Regions from separate parts of the Homo sapiens genome. Here region 1 is linked to region 2. The links come from fine-mapping of genetic effects on gene expression. A gene starts in region 2. The other region holds a variant in brackets. All regions are shown on one strand. Distances are between the middles of the regions.

What was found. PIP is the estimated chance that this variant, and not a neighbour inherited with it, causes the effect. A credible set is the group of variants that fine-mapping cannot tell apart.
Region 1: its variant is the best candidate, but not a certain one, in a credible set for the expression of NPNT in subcutaneous fat (TwinsUK, PIP 0.52).

What each region holds. Positions count from the first base shown.
Region 1 is chr4:105,987,991-105,992,380 of GRCh38, reverse strand. No RefSeq gene overlaps it. Among named protein-coding and RNA genes, the nearest start is that of NPNT, 95 kb to the right of the region's middle. The variant G/A (reference allele first, on the strand shown) is at 2,580.
Region 2 is chr4:105,893,373-105,897,762 of GRCh38, reverse strand. NPNT (nephronectin) reads right to left here and starts at 2,292. Exons shown (of 12, transcript NM_001033047.3): 1 at 2,040-2,292. The coding sequence starts at 2,110. RefSeq lists silencers at 1,137-1,431, 1,670-1,879, 2,040-2,609, 3,534-3,583.

The DNA of each region.
Region 1 (4,390 bases), 95 kb before region 2:
TAGCCAACCTAAATGAGCCACAAGTAATAATAATAGTTATTACTATTATTAATGGTACATTACTATTGTTATTACAAATATAATTCCATTTATTATTAATCTTAATAATACTGCTAATAAGAAAAATGGCTTCCTATTTATTGAATGCCTCTTGTGGCTAGGTGCTATGTTAAGTGCTATACAAATGTTACACTCCTCAAATGGATCTGCACATAAACCCTGAGAGGAAGTATTGCATTTCTTATTTAGGAAAAAGAAACAGAGTCAGAGAGGCTGACTAATTTGCCCAAGGTTACAGTTGGCAATTGGCAGAGCTGACCGTTAATGGGTTGTGGGGAAAAGCCTGTGATAAAGTAGATAACGAGAGGCCTCTTGGGCCCATGAGCCAGGAGGACATGAAGAAGGATGGGGATGAGGTACCATCAGGCAGAGTCAGTGCCAGTAGGGGCAGTGTCAGCCCCTGCAGCTGCTTCTCCCTCACTCTACCCGATACACCCCGAGGCAAACACAGTTCTACAGAAGAACGGACTGGACCAGAGAGACAGAGTTCAAACTGTAGGTTCTGCAGGAGTGCGGCCGCTGCTCGAGATGACACTGTCATGGCAACAGGGCCCAGTTATTCTACTGATGCTCTGGGAGCTTATAGTGGCCTCACAGAAGTCGTGAGACACATATATCATTTCCTTTGGGTGTGGGGCATTCTGTTCAATAAGCTTGCTCCCATCACCAAAAGGAAATGTCACCAAAAGGATATAGACTCACCTTTCCTTCTCTGCTTGCACAAGAATATTACCTTTGCTGAGCTAAAACCGAGGCAAATGCTAACAGGAGGTTGGAGGGGAGTTCTTTTTGATGCGCACTTTGGGTGGAGCAGGATGTTTTAGATTCTGTGTAGATAATCAGTTCTCTACATCAGGCCACTGGACATCTAGGTTCCTTTTCCGTCTTTTTAATGGAATCTTTGAGTTCCAATATAGAAAGTGGTCACCTTACTGAAGTCTGAGTTGGTCAAAGTCATGACTCTTAATTTCGAGTATATGACAAGTTAGGGACACGGTTTTGCTCCTACCTCAAATACACTGGAGACCACAGCACTGAAGCTGAGTCAGCTCTGGCTCCCTCAGGGATCATGACCAGCTGTCCTTTTCTGTCAGCCTGACTCACTGGGGATGTCCACCTTTTGATTCTCTCATGCTGTGCCCTGGATACTCACCAGGCCTGTTTTAGCAGGTTTCACAGGCCTGGCGTCCTGCCCAGAGTCTCCACCAGAGCTTTGGCCTAGCTCCTGTGCTTGGCTGAAAGCAGGAAGAACTAAACTTGGCCTGGTGGCCCACATCCCAAGTGCCCTCATTTCACAGGACATCCGGCTCTTTGTCTGCCTTCCTGATCAGGCCCCATGAAGTTGCTCACAAGCTCTGCTGCCCACAAAACCCCCACTTGCTTCCCTCAGGTTTTCTTCCCTGTGAGGGAAAAGGGAGAGGAGAGCCAGCTCGATGCTCGTTATTAGCATTTAAGGACATTAATTCATAGCACCCATCTCTCCTCTGGATAAGGAATAAACTGAAAAAGACACAGTCAGAGACCAAAATGCCAGTTGTATCACTGCTAAAGCAAGATTGCAAAGGCCTGGACCTTTACCCAAGATGGGTAAAGGCATCATATCATTTCCTTTGGCCCTGGGGCATCCTGTTCAATAAGCTTGCTCCCAGCCCACCCTTGACCCAAGAGACGTTCTTAGCCAGAATAGCTGGATGATTACAGAACTTCACCACCCTCCCCCTTCCAGGGGCAAAGTCTTTTCTGAGGGTTTACAAGATGGAGGAAACCATGAGACTGCATAGGGCTGAGAGAGCCAGAAGGAAGGCTCAATTAGCCTCACTCAGTTGGGACTCATAGACCAAGAGTGTGACCTGATACCTGGACATCTCACCCAAGAGAGGAGAGAGAATGCAGCAACTTCCCTGATCCTTCAGGGAAGGTAGAAGTTCTGAAAATCATGAGCTGGTGGGAATCCAGGGAAAGGGGAAACAGCACTCACCACCCTTCCCCATTCTGAACTCTCATCTCTATACACATGTAAGAGTTGTAAGAACAAGCAACCAATGGGAAGACTAGGGGCAAATGAGAATGGCAAGGAAGAGAAAATAGGCAGGGAACAGGGGTGTAAGGTTAGAAGGAAACATTAGAAATAGGAAATATATTGAAAGGTAAGTTAGAGACTGAAGTATCCATTATCTTGTTGACATTTTTTTAAATGACTAAACATTATGCACTCTGACCAAAACACACTTAGGTTATAGAAGGAGTAAAAGAGGGGAATGGCTGGCATTCTTAAGTCACAACTACTCACTCAGAAATATACATTTTATGAGGTTTGTTGAGACTAGAATTTTTTTAAATGACTAATACTTGTTTATTGGAACAGTTAAGGGTTTCATTGGATATAAACTAAGATCGCATCTTCATTATTTGATTTGTTCAGGTTTTAAATTAACCAAATAACTACATTAATCCAGTTTTCAATAAGGCATTTTTCATCTCCTTTGAAAATGCTGGGAGTTTAGAGGTGGCATTGCCAG[G/A]TCAAAGGGAAATCTTACACTTGGGACAAAATAGCCAGTGACCTCATATCAGGAGTTGCCAACCACTCCCTCTAATGGGAGGATTTCCTTCATGCCCGAGGAAATCACAGGTTTTCTATAGCAGAACAGGAGGGTGGGAATCAAGCCAGTATTTAACAGTGAGTCTTAAAAGGCCTTTCCAGGGGTGTCCTAACAAGGCCACACAAACTTTGGAGCAAAAAAGAACTTGTTTAGGACAGCTGGCTAATCTTCTTGGATTAATCAAGTTGGAACCAACTTGACAAGATACAGACTTGTTAAGAATACCAGTGCACACTTGACCAAACCCCCCATTAATGCTATTTTTAAAAATACCTTGAGACTTAACATTTTAATAAAAATAACTTGGTATTCTTTGCATAGGAGTGTGACTCATTTAAGGAGAAAATTTACGGCAGCCAGTTCCTCAGTGATATCATAAAAATATGAATAGAGGGACATTTGCTTTTGGATATAGGGTAAAAGCGAGCACATCAAAGTGGAAACAGTATCTTGCAAAGTATTCCTCCCAGGATTCTCATAGCCCTGTGAAAATGCGTCATATACAGAGAAAGTTTCTCATGATTTTAGAGGAGTTAGAGGAAGGATTCTAAGTTGTTGACTCCCATTCGGATACTTCAAACACAGATCATATTTAAGAATATTTTAGGGCAGAACAGAAGATACTTTTTTATATACAAATCAGATGTATTTAAATGGACCATTGTATGACATGTACATGACTATATGCATATGCCATGTATGATTTTAGAACCCATCTTGCTGGGGTCTTTTCTTTACTGGCACTGAGGAAACAAGTGGTCCTGTTGGGGAATCCGATGTGGCAAGGAACTGTGGGAGACTTCAAGGAGTTGAGGGCAGCCTCCGGCCAGCAAGAAAATGAGTCAGATGCAAGGAATTGAATTATGCCAACAACTGCCTGAACTTGCATGTGGATCCTTCCACAGTTGAGTCTTGGATGAGGCCACAGCCCTGGCTGATACCTTGATTACAGCCTTGGAAGATGCTGAAGCAGAGAATCTACTGACACCATGCCCACCCAGACTCTTAACTCACAGAAACCATGAGATAATAAATGTGTGTTATTTTAAACTGCTGTTTGTGGAAATATTGTTAGGTAGCAATAGAAAACTAATGTAAGCAATCTCCTATAGTGGATTTCAAATATAGGGTATTCAGTCACTGGTCTCAGAGGCTATCTATAAGGAAATCCATGAAGGAATCAAATGAGTAGATGATGGTGTAAATATCTAAAATTACAGTTAGAATAATGCCCATGTCAAACTCAAACAAGTACCTATTCACCACATAGACTGTAGCAACGTTGGGCATTTAGAAGGCCTTCATGGGCTTGGAGAAAAGCATACCTTGGAGATACAGAACTCTCTATTCCTTAAAGGCCAGAACAATAGAGTCTCTACAATATGTTCTCATCAAGCTATCAAGTGATATTGGAAAAAGTCCATTTCCCACATACTTCTTATTAGACCAAAAAGATACCTTTAAAAATTAGCCATAATGCAAATGTAGAAACAGTAGTTACATCTTTCTCATTTCTTAAAATAAAGAACAGACTTCTTAAAAACTGAGGCTCAGAAATAACCCAGGGACAGAAAGATAAATATCACATGTTCTCACTCATATGTGGGAGCTAAAAAACAAATTTGAGGCCATGAACAGTGAGAGTAGAATTGTGGGTATTAGAAGCTGAGCACTTTGGGAGGCTGAGGTGGGCAGATCATGAGGTCACGAGTTCGAGACCAGCCTGACCA
Region 2 (4,390 bases):
GGTTAAAACACCTTCACAGAAATAGTTCTGCTATGATCTAATGTCAAATTTCAGACAGTTAAATACCCCATCCCCCAACACACAAGGGTAGGAGAAAAAACGGGAGGGAAAGATGCTTTCTTAAGTAGAAATAGCACCAGCTAACACCAACAATTCTCAAGGCTGCCACTCACAGGATAGTTTCTGAAGCTTGAAATAAAACAGATTCCTCAAAGACCCACACCTGTTACTGGGGTGAAAGCCAGGTTTGACTGATTCACCATAAACTGAAAAGTATTAAGTAAGACATGTCAAAGCAGAAAAAATTTCTGCCTCATATAAAAGGTGGATGGGGGAAGGAGCAGAAAGGTTTCTCAAAAATCAAGTGTAACAGAGCTCTTTTTGAGACATAACTGTGGCAGAAACAAAAAAAACAAAAAAGTACTAGAAAAAAGTCTAAATAAAACCAAGGAGAGTTTAAAGTGTAGCTGATATCTCAAGTATCCTTGTGGTTTGAAACGTGCTTAGATCAACAATTCATAGTATTTTCCTCTCTAATGTAAATAATGCCTAAAGAAAGTAATTTCAGGATACAGATTTATCCACCTGATTACACGTTGACACATTATTTGCTAAATTGTTTCCTTGTTTAGAGTCACACCTAAATGACTTTTTTCCTCTGGGTATCAACATTTTAATTTGCTGTTTTAGACATCTTTTTAAAGTTACAAAAAGCTATATGCATTCACATCATATGCATATCTTGTGATGGGTTTCTTGTTGCAAATATGTGTGCAAGAAATGCATAACATACCCAAATGTGAGCACAGAATTGCTTTTAAAAATAAAATAAAAAGGTCTACACTCTGGCTGCTATCACGTTTTCTTAAAGTCTCCTTATCTTTTTCAATTCCCCTTTTCTTTTACCTGCCTTTCTACCCCCAGGCCCAAAGTACAAAATAACCCCGAACTTTCTATTTCCTCCGACCAGGTAGTGAACAAGCAGCTGTGCTTTTTCTTGGCGCTCCACTGGTTCCCCTCCGTTCGCCTCCGGGTACAAGAAAGCGAATCAATTGTGGAATTGATTCGTTCCAAGATTAAAGGTAAAACAGGTGCGGCATCTTTCTTTAGGACTAGGCAGGGACCTACACGGAGGGGTGGGGGCAGAGGTCGCTGAAGGAAGGCGACCGGGCGACGGTGTGCGCCAGAGTAAAACCTCTTTTCGCAGCAGCCATCTGCACCCGGGACGAGCCTAGTCTGTAATTGCACAGAGGTGAGGGGGACCGAGCACACCCTCCCGACAGACCCAGTGTCTCTCACACACCGGAGCGGCCCCGGAGCGCGGGAGGACCGGCTGAGTGACAGCGGAGACGCGGCCCGAGGTTGTTGGAACCTGTCACAGCACGCCGCCGTCAGGCTCGCCCGAGTCTGAGGAGCGGCGCAGTGTGTGCGCTCTCACACACACATCCACACACTCATGCTCACATTCACGGAGCGCCCACCCTCCGGTCCTCATTTTGAGTCTCCTTCCCTCAAGAAAACCAAATGGAGAGGCCCACAAATCTCCCCCGTAGCCCAGTCGCTGACTCGCACCCACTCTCTGTGTGAGCGGCCCCGAGAGCCCTGAGCAGAGCCCGGGCCTCCCCCCGGGGGCCTGGAAGCTTCCCCAGTGAAGAGCCGTCTAGTTCAGGCGCGGGAGTTTCCCGGGTAAGGGATGTTTCGCGCGTCACCTCGGCGTAGGTGGCTAAACCGCGCCCTCAGAGCCGAGATCCCAGGCTCCAGCGGCTCCTCTCCCTCAGTCCTAATTCCCGAGCCGGGGCGAGTCGCCCTCGGGGGGCCGCGGATGGGGTCCCAGACTCGCAAGGGCGCGCCCTCTCCGCCTCGGGCGGGCACTCGGAGCCGCTGGACCGCTCTCCTCGCGCCACGCTGTGCGGTGGCCCAACTTCTGGATGGAGGAGACGCCTCTCTGACCACGAAACCCCGCGGGGAAAAGTGACCCAAGACAGTGAGTGTGAAATTAGCGCGGGAAGGAGGAGAGGGCGCCCCGGGGCCCAGCTCACCTCCCGTCGAACTCGGCGGCCGCCTGCAGGTAGAGCGAGGATACCAGCACCAGCGCCAGGAGAAAATCCATGTTGGGCAGCGGGTCCTGGGGCGCAGCGCAGTGGCGCGCGAGGAACAGGTTGGGGTGGTGGGCGCCGATGGGAGGCGCCCCTCTGAGAGTCTCGAGGAACCCCCAGCCCTCGCCGCCCGGGCTACTGCTGCCGCTCCCGGAGGACAGCGGCGAGGCGCGCGGCCGGAGCAGGTCTGCTGCGCGGCGCCCGGAGCCCCCTCCCGCTCCCTTCTAGCTAGGGGAGGCGCTGCAGGGGTAGCTGCACCGCCCGCGGGGAGGGGCGCCAGGGGCGGGCAGGGGGTGCGCGTGCGCCCGACTCGCCGCCCTCCCAGCCCCGGGCGAAGGGTGAGCGCGCTCCGCTCCTCCCGGGGGCCCAGCGGGGCAGGCAACTCGGGGGCAGGGGCGCTGCGGGACGGCAGTGGCTCTTGGGGGTTAGCCAAGCAGGGCGAGCCCCAGCCTGGGAGAAAAGTTGCAAACCCTCTCTGGGAGAGGGAAAGCAGGGTGCCCAGCAGGAAAGGGGAGTGGAGGAGGAAAGGAGCCCGAGGCGTAGGTGCACGCTCCGCAGGTTCCGCCCGAACAGGTGGTGACTGCAGGGGCGAGCAGTAGCTTTCACCGGAGGGCGGAGAAGCCCTAGAGCAGAGAGGTTTATGGGGCTGGAGCTGAGCAGTGTCTGCATTTACTAAAACCACAGCACGACTTGGACAAATTAGCGAAGGCAAACTCTGGGAGTTTGCTTTTCCCGCAGAGTTGGCAAAGGCATATTTTTTATTTTGTAACTAACCAAAAGAAATATTTGGCTCTCCAGTCGGGTTTTGAAGAAGAAATGAGCAGACTGTTTCTGTCTCTATCAGCTCAACTCCCGAGCACATTAGGACAGGACTGCCCCTCTAGGGATGAGTGCCTGCCAGAGAGGAAGGGCTGCTACTGCCTAGTAGTGTTGTGGTGCCTGATCTTGAGGGGATCACTTAGAAACCATTTTAAGTAATCATTGTTCAGTTGTTGCAGAGTAAAAAGTATTGTACTAAATGACTGTGTTCAAATGAAAACATGATTATCCTAAGATGTACATGAGCCCAATCAAGTCACCCCTCTTCCCAACCTTACCTCGAATGACAGCCTTGTGCAGTGATCATCTGTCATCTCCCGTACCTCTCAATGTCCTCATTTCTCTTCCTCCAGTCCATGGCCTCCTTGCCTTTCTTGCATGTTCCAGGCATGCCCCTGCCTTGGGGCCAGTAACTGGCTGTTTTCTCTATCTGGACCCAAATATCTACATGGCTCACACCCTCACTTCCTTCAGTCTTTGCTCAAATGTCACCTCTTCCAGGAGGCCAATCATGATCATCCTATTTAAAACTGCAACTTGCCCTCTGCAAATATCTACATGGCACACGCCCTCACTTCCTTCAGTCTTTGCTCAAATGTCACACCTCTTTGAAGAGGCCAGTCATGACCATCCTATTTAAACCTCTAACTTGCCCTCCTTCTGATGATCCTTGGCCTGTCCTACTTTGTCTTTTCTCCATACCACTCATCTTTTATATTACTATATAACTTGCATATTTTTTGTTTGTATGTTTTCTTTCCGCTAGAATGCAAGCTGTACAAAGGCAGGTATCTTTATCACCTAGAACACTGCCTGGCACATAGTAGGTGCTCATAAATGTTTATTCAATTCATTTGCTACATTACAAACGTTTTCCCCCCATCTTCATTTTCTTTTTGAGGTTTCTACAACTTCAAATTTTTAATGGAAAGTTCTGTGGTAGGGTGATTCACTATCCTGATCATTCAGTGTGTGTAAAAACAGGAATTTTCTTCAAGGAAAGGAAAAATAATGGTTTCAACTTAAATGGCTCTTTGATTTCTAAGTTGTTTTCAGTTAGCAAAACAAGTTTCTATTTTAATCTCAAGAAAGATCCATGCCAATTCAGGCTTGGGACATTATTTTAGGCAAACAGCTTGGTGTCATCCATTTCAGGTCCTTCTAATGAAGTCCAAAAATGTAGGAGTCAAAATATTTTTTCTGCAGAAAATCAAATTTTTGTAAGTGTAGGCATGGTTCCAGGTTCCAGTGGCTACTCCTTAGCTGTTTTTGTTTGTTGGTTGGTTAGTTGGTGCCTGGGTTAGATTTACAAATAAACCTCACTGTGTGCAATGGATGATTAGAGAGAAAGGGGGTAATATACGGCTAAAAAACTGGAGATCTAAGGAAAAGACGAAGAGTGGTGGATGAAAACAGGATAAATAACTGGAGGGAAAAGTGTAATGCCCCATCTACATGCGTCTTTCTTTTGTTTT